Homo sapiens: one gene and its partner. The protein of the gene in region 2 interacts with the protein of the main gene of each other region in a pairwise test. Each region holds a gene or a part of one and is shown on either strand. Other genes may lie near its edges. The genes, in order: TRPV2 and CDH6.

What was found.
Region 1: the proteins of CDH6 (region 2) and TRPV2 interact in a protein complementation assay, tested with the Homo sapiens proteins (one study listed by IntAct).

Annotation. Positions count from the first base shown.
Region 1 is NC_000017.11:16,422,010-16,425,835, reverse strand, and holds part of TRPV2 (transient receptor potential cation channel subfamily V member 2), read right to left. Parts: intron 3,238-3,826; coding exon 2,947-3,237; intron 2,368-2,946; coding exon 2,069-2,367; intron 1-2,068. UniProt on the Homo sapiens protein: Calcium-permeable, non-selective cation channel with an outward rectification. Seems to be regulated, at least in part, by IGF1, PDGF and neuropeptide head activator. May transduce physical stimuli in mast cells.
Region 2 is NC_000005.10:31,200,090-31,203,915, reverse strand, and holds part of CDH6 (cadherin-6 isoform 1 preproprotein), read right to left. Parts: intron 2,242-3,826; exon of another isoform or gene 2,158-2,241; intron 54-2,157; exon of another isoform or gene 1-53. UniProt on the Homo sapiens protein: Cadherins are calcium-dependent cell adhesion proteins. They preferentially interact with themselves in a homophilic manner in connecting cells; cadherins may thus contribute to the sorting of heterogeneous cell types.

The DNA of each region.
Region 1 (3,826 bases), on a different chromosome or scaffold from region 2:
AAATGGCAGATTGATCCCTAGCCCTGGGGTCCTTGAGGCCCCTGAGATCAGAGTCTACTAGCTGTATCTGTGTGTGCACTTTCGCGGTCAGAATCTAGAATTTTCAACAGACTAGAAAGTGGTCCCTAATCCAAACAGGTTAGGAAGCAGTCTGGTTTCACGCGTGAGGAATGGGAAAGGAGGAACAGATCAGGACACTGCTTTCATAGGCCACACAGCAGTGCCTCTAGACAAGAAAGTGAGGTTCACACACCCCAGGGAGCACTCCAAAAAACTTGGGAGGGCAGCGAAAAAGGGTTAAAACTTCTATTTATGTTTATCGTTTCCTTAATCTTTCAAAAATCTCCACTGTAAGCCCATGAGGCCAGCCCTGGTGAGCTATTGGCAAAAGCTATTTGGAACAGGCCATTGGTAAGCTATCTGGAACAAAGTGGGGGCTGCCTCATGTTTACTCTTCCTACCAGAATAACTTCCAGCTAGTCAAAGCTCTAGGCATTAAAAATGCAGCTGCAGGCTGGGCGTTTCGGCTCATGCCTGTAATCTCAGCACTTTGGGAGGCTGAGGCAGGTGGATCACCAGAGGTCGGGAGTTTGAGACCAGCCTGACCAACATGGAGAAACCCCGTCTCTACTAAAAATACAAAATTAGCCGGGCGTGGTGGCACATGCCTGTAATCCCAGCTACTCGGGAGGCTGAGGCAAGAGAATCGCTTGAACTCCGGAGGCGGAGGTTGCAGTTAGCCGAGATCGCGCCATTGTACTCCAGCCTGGGCAACAAGAGCGAAACTCCATCTCAAAAAAAAAAAAAAAAAAATGCAGCTGCAAAAGTTTGGAAGAAAATATGGGTATGAAGATTATATATATACTATATATAATTATAATGTATAATATAATGTATAATAGTTATAACATATATTATGTACATATAATATGTATTATATATATAAAATCTTGTAGCAGGAATTAGACAATAGCAAAACCATGGAACCTTAAAGGAAAAGATAGTCACACTTGCAGATTATAAAAATTTTTAAATCCTGTATAGCAAAAAAAACATAAAATTCAAAAGACAAATGATGAACTAGGAGAAATTTTACAAGTGCTATGGTAGACAAAATACTAAATTCATTATAAAGTTATCAATAAATATGCAGAAACAGAATAGCAAAATAGGCAAAAGATATAAAAAGGCTATCTCTTAATAAAGAAACACAAACGACTTTTAAAAATTCCCAATGTTTGGCCGGGTGCCATGGCTCACACCTGTAATCCCAGCACTTTGGGAGGCCGAGGTGGGCAGATCACCTGAGGTCAGGAGTTCAAGACCAGCCTGGCCAACATGGTGAAACCCCATCTCTACTAAAAATACAAAAAATTAGCTGGGTGCAGTGGCGCGTGCCTGTAATCCCAGCACTTTGGGAGGCCGAAGCGGGTGGATCACGAGGTCAGGAGTTCAAGACCAGCCTGACCAACATGGTGAAACCCCTCTTTACTGAAAATACAAAAAAAAAATTAGCCAGGCATGGTGGTGGGTGCCTGTAATCCCAGCTACTCAGGGGGCTGAGGCAGGAGAATTGCTTGAACCTGGGAGGCAGAGGTTGCAGTGAGCCGAGATCATGTCACTGCACTCCAGCCTGGGTGACAGAGCGAGGGTCCGTCTCAAAAAAAAAAAAAACAAAATTAGCTGGGTGTGGTGGCACATGCCTGTAATCCCAGCTACTTGGGAGGCTGAGGCAGGAGAATCGCTTGAACCTGGGAAGCAGAGGTTGCGGTGAGCCGAGGTCGCACCATTGCACTCCAGCCTGGGCAACAAGAGCGAAACACCGTCTCAAAAAAAAAAAATCTCAATGTTTTATAATGTAATATATTCAGTAGTTCATATGCAATTTATAAATAAACAGAAATATATCAGAGGTACATACTGAAAATTTTCTTACTAACAGGAGTGTTCCATTGAAAAGCAGAGAAGCCACTGCTCTTCACCACCCCCTGGGTTCTTTCTGCAGAAATTTTGGGATGAGACCTACTGCTTCCTGGAGAGGGGAAGTGGGAAGGGGACAGCCGCTCACCTCGATCTTGCCCTCCTTGGCGGCCAGCTTCAGAGGCGTGAGATCCTGCAGGTTGCGGATGTCCTCAAGCTGCACGGTAGGGCAGAGGCGGGCCCCAGCTTGGAGGAGCCCATCATACATGCTGGTCACCAGTGCAATGTTCTCAGCTGAGTTGTCCGAGATCATCACTAGGGCATGCAGGACTGTGTTGCCCTGGGAGTCAGTGGCCTGCAGGCTGGCGGGCTGGTGTGGGTTCTCCAGGAGGTAGCTTACCACATCCCACTGCTTGGTGCAAGCGGCCAAAGAGAGGGGTAGCTCACCTGCAGGCCAAGAGAGCAGCTTGGGCCCCAGGCCTCCTGCTTTCCATCTGCCTACTCCTCATGCTCCTTGGACAAAAGGCCAGCCCTCCTTGAAACAGGTCAGGCTTCTTTACCACTGAAGGGAGCAGAACAGGGGCCAGCCAACCTGCTGCCTTTTGCTGTCTTCTTTGCCAGAGCCCAGGCATGCTGCCTCTTTATTCAGGCTCTGCCTGGCCAAGTCACATGCCAGTGCTAGCAGCCCCTATTTCTTTCCCTGGGTCTGGGTCTGGGTGCATGCCCGTCTTCTGGCCAGACGAGGATGAAACATCTCTTATGACAAATTAATGCTGGATGTGGTGGCACACACTTGTAGCCCCAGCTCGAGAAGCTAAGGCAGGAGGATTGTTAGAACCCAGGAGTTTGAGGCTGGCCTGGACAAAAGACAAACTGCTTTTGCAGGCAGCCTAGTGGTTAGAAGCAGGGCATCGGGGTCAGAAAAACCTAGGTTTAACTGCCAGCTCTGTCATACACTAACCATGTGACCTTGAACCAGGCCTTACTCTCTCTTTGCCTCGATTTATCCAAGAAAGGCTCACTCACCGAAATAAAAGCAAGTCCCTTGGCCCTTCTGGAAGAAGCGGCCGCAGGCCCGGGCATGCACATTGGCCCCATTCTCCACCAGGAGCTTCACACACTGCAGACTCCTCTTCTCAATGGCGATGTGCAGAGCGCTGTGGCCTCGGTAATAGTCATCTGTGCACTGGGCATTTACCAGGGGCTGAGGATTGCCAGAGTCCCTGTCGATCTGCAGCAGTGGCAGAATGCAGGCATTGACTCCGTCCTTAAGGTTCAGCACAGCCTTCATCAGGCACGTCTTACCTGTGGAGCCCTCTGTGGGAAGAAGGGAGGGGAAGGGGCACAGTGGTGCTGAGACCTGGAGTGGCTGGGCTGCCCGATAGCTCTTATAAGCCCAGCTCAAAGTACCCCTTGGGAGGATTAAAAGAGATGCTACACATAACTGGTGGGAGCACAACCATGTTATAGGCTATTAAGGCTCCAAGTAACAGATAAGAAATACCAACAGACATGACTACAATTTCTGCCCTAGAAACGAAATTTCTTTTTTTTTCTTTTTCTTTTCTTTTCTTTTCTTTTTTTTTTTTTTTTGAGACAGAGTCTTGCTCTGTCACCCAGGCTGGAGTGCAGTGGCGCAATCTTGGCTCACTGCAAGCTCTGCCTCCCAGGTTCACGCCGTTTTCCTGCCTCAGCCTCCCCAGCAGCTGGGACCACAGGCGCACACCGCCACACCCGGCTAATTTTTTTTGTTGTTTTGTTTTGTTTTTTGTTTTCAGCAGAGACGGGTTTTACCGTGTTAGCCAGGATGGTCTCGATCTCCTGATCTCATGATCTGCCCACCTCGGCCTCCCAAAGTGCTGGGATTACAGGCGTGAGCCACTGCGCCCGGCTTAGAAACTAAATT
Region 2 (3,826 bases):
AAACAACAGGTGCTGGAGAGGATGTGGAGAAATAGGAACACTTTTACACTGTTGGTGGGACTGTAAACTAGTTCAACCATTGTGGAAGTCAGTGTGGCGATTCCTCAGGGATCTAGAACTGGAAATACCATTTGACCCAGCCATCCCATTACTGGGTATATACCCAAAGGACTATAAATCATGCTGCTATAAAGACACATGCACACGTATGTTTATTGTGGCATTATTCACGATAGCAAAGACTTGGAACCAACCCAAATGTCCATCAATGATAGACTGGATTAAGAAAATGTGGCACATATACACCATGGAATACTATGCAGCCATAAAAAATGATGAGTTCATGTCCTTTGTAGGGACATGGATGAAATTGGAAATCATCATTCTCAGTAAACTGTCGCAAGAACAAAAAACCAAACACCGCATATTCTCACTCATAGGTGGGAATTGAACAATGAGATCACATGGACACAGGAAGGGGAATATCACACTCTGGGGACTGTTGTGGGGTGGGGGGAGGGGGGAGGGATAGCATTGGGAGATATACCTAATGCTAGATGACGAGTTAGTGGGTGCAGCGCACCAGCATGGCACATGTATACATATGTAACTAACCTGCACAATGTGCACATGTACCCTAAAACTTAAAGTATAATAATAAAAAATAAATAAAAAAAAAAAAGGACCTGCCTGAAACATCTCTCTCTCTCTCTCGCTTTATAAAAAAGCAGGTAAATCAGAGAGGGAAAATGTGGAACTGATATTTATCACAAGGCCACACTAATAGAATTAATCTTTTATGAAACACTGACAATATCTCTACTAGATACTTTTAAACAAGTAGCTTAATACAAGAATAATTGTTGGGAGAAAAGTCGCTGAACTTGGTTCAAATGAGGAGTCAGCAGTAATGTAACAGTCAAGGTAGATTTTATCATTTTGCATTGGTAATTAGACTGACCACAAGCCATTTTGATTGGTATTAAATTAGAAACTGTTGCTAAGGGGAGCTTAGAATATTTTGTTGAGTACAAAACTGAGCAGTTGCAAATATATATATATTTTGCATATATATATGTGTGTGTATATATACATATAGTTTTATATATGTCACATATATACACATATATATGTGACATATACATATATGCGTGTATATGTTACATATATACACGCATATATGTATATATGTAACATATATACGCATGTATGTATATATGTGTATATATACATACAGTTGCATATATATATATGTGTGTGTATATATATATATTTTTTTGAGGTGAAGTTTTGCTCTTATCACCCAGGCTGGAGTAGAATGGCGTGATCTGGGCTCACTGCAACCTCCGCCTCCTGGGTTCCAGCGATTCTCCCTCTCAGCCTCCTGAGTAGCTGGGATTATAGGTGCCTGCCACCATATCTGGCTAAGTTTTTTGTATTTTTAGTAGAGATGGGGTTTCACTATGTTGGTCAGGCTGGTCTCAAACTCCTAACCTCAGTTGATCCGCCTGCCTTGGCCTCCCAAAGTGCTGGGATTAGAGGCATGAGCCACCATGCCCGGCCTGCAAATATTTTAAAGTGGATGCTAGTAGATTAATGAGACTCTCTTTCTTTTTTAATTCTGCAAAAGGAGATTTAAGCTTTGCAGTTAAAAATACGATAAGCTCATTTTAATGACTGAAATCTATACTATACACTAGAAGGCAATTGCTTTTTGAAGTAAAAATGTATATCTCAAAACACAGACCAACATGTTAGTAAATTTTTGTCTACAATTATACAAAGTTCACTTTTAGAAAAAAAAAGACACTGATTTTATAATTTATATGGTTAAGGTGGGCTGTGTTTGTTCCGGCTTATAGAGTTAGATATAAATTTAAAACTTTTCATTTCCCACTGAATTATCCGCTTTGTAATCAAGTGGGCAAATTCACTATTAATGACACATTCTGGCCATGAGCTTGGCAAAGCATATTTTTTTTGAGGATATGTTAATATGGTCAAAGATCATATTAGTATTCCAAATGTTAGTATTAATCTCTGTAAGTTTTAATTAAGAGACCCAAGGATACCTTTTCATTAAATGGCTTTTGTTTAGTTTGTCTTTTTGGTGTTTTAAATATAATTATAATTCCCCTTTACTTTTTGTTCATCCAGATAAGAAGGAAGAGAACCAGGTCAATCATTTCTCAACATGATGTCAGTCATTGTATTAAACCAGTGGTCCCCAGACTTTTGGATTTCATGGAACATTAACAGTTTTATTTTTTAAAGGGGAGAGGATTGACATTGAGTTACTTGCCAAATTTAAATTTTGCCAAGGAAAGAGCCATCATAATCTTTCCCCATATTTCCATGAAAGAATTGACATTTTAACTTCAAAGCAGTGGGAAGGTTACTGTCTGATTTCTTTAAATCAAATAAATTGAGATTTATGAGACACACAATAGGTTGTCATCATTTCTCATATCTAACCACTGACCAATGATTTTTTTTATTTCAAAGATGGATACAACTTTGGGTCTCCTGGGGAATCACTGATTTAGATAAGGTTTACTCAAAACTGCCATCAATCCATTACAAATAAAACAAAACCCCAAACCTTATCATATGTCTCCCTAGCAATGGTCAATATTTTGAGGGAAAATATTAATTCTTCTTTGCAATAGGAAATTTGCAAAATGTAGGAACACACAAAATTCTTAAAGAAGCCTACATCCTTATCTTCACCGCAAGTATCCACATTTGTCCCTTCACAGAATAATTATAAATAATAATATTCTTTATTTAAATTTCCTCTTTAATTTTTAATGCCAGAATTAAATGGTGATGATAAAAAGCAATAACATTCAACAACTAGAAATCAAGCCACAGCAGAGAAAGATAGAGATAAGAGAACAAAATAAATCAAATATATCCATGGATAAGTTATTCATCTCTCTGGTCATCAGTTATCTCACAGTTAAATGAAGAGTATTAGATAAAGTCATCTTTAAGCTCCTTCCTGTGTCTCACATTCTCTGATTATATTTCTAATGATCAAACTTTCCTTGAAGGCTAGATTAACTACATGACTTTTTGAATGGCGGCAATAGAAAGAAGAGAATATAATGAAAATGGCTCATCAATGTCAACCATATAAAACGTGACTGTATTAAGAGGGTTTCTTCCTCCCTCCCTTCCTCCCTCTCTCCCTCACTCCTCTCTCTCCCTCCTTCCTTCTCCCAACTTCCCTCCCTTTCTCCTTTCCTCCCTCCCTCTTTCTTTCCTTGCTTTTGTGGCGATTGTTTTCTGGTGGCATGGTAGTGGTGTGTATATGTGTGTGTGTGTGTGTGTGTGTGTGTGTGTATGTATGTGTGAAATTTTACTTGGTAAATCATTCAGAACAAATACCAAATTGTGATAGTAATGAAGTAACAAAATAAATGTGGTCATAAAAAATTATTTTTACTTACTAGATGAAGAAGGACACAAACACTATCTTACTTAGCTCTACCCAGAGTCCCAAATGCTACATCCATGGTAATGTCAACGAGCTGAGAATGGACTGATGCCCTTAGTGGGTGCTGTGAGGTTGAGGTGTCCCTCCCCTCTCAATGCAATGAACAGGTGTCATTTTAGCTACCTTCCTGAAATACCCCTTTCCTCATAAAGATCCCTCTGAAGGCAGGATAAGATAATTTATTCTCATATAAAAAGTACCATCATTATGTTCATAAAAATGGCCCACACAATGCTTTCTACTACAATTATAAATTCTGACACATGCTTGCAGATGATTTTTCAAAAATGAATAACTTAAAAACATCTTCCTGAGCCTTCACAT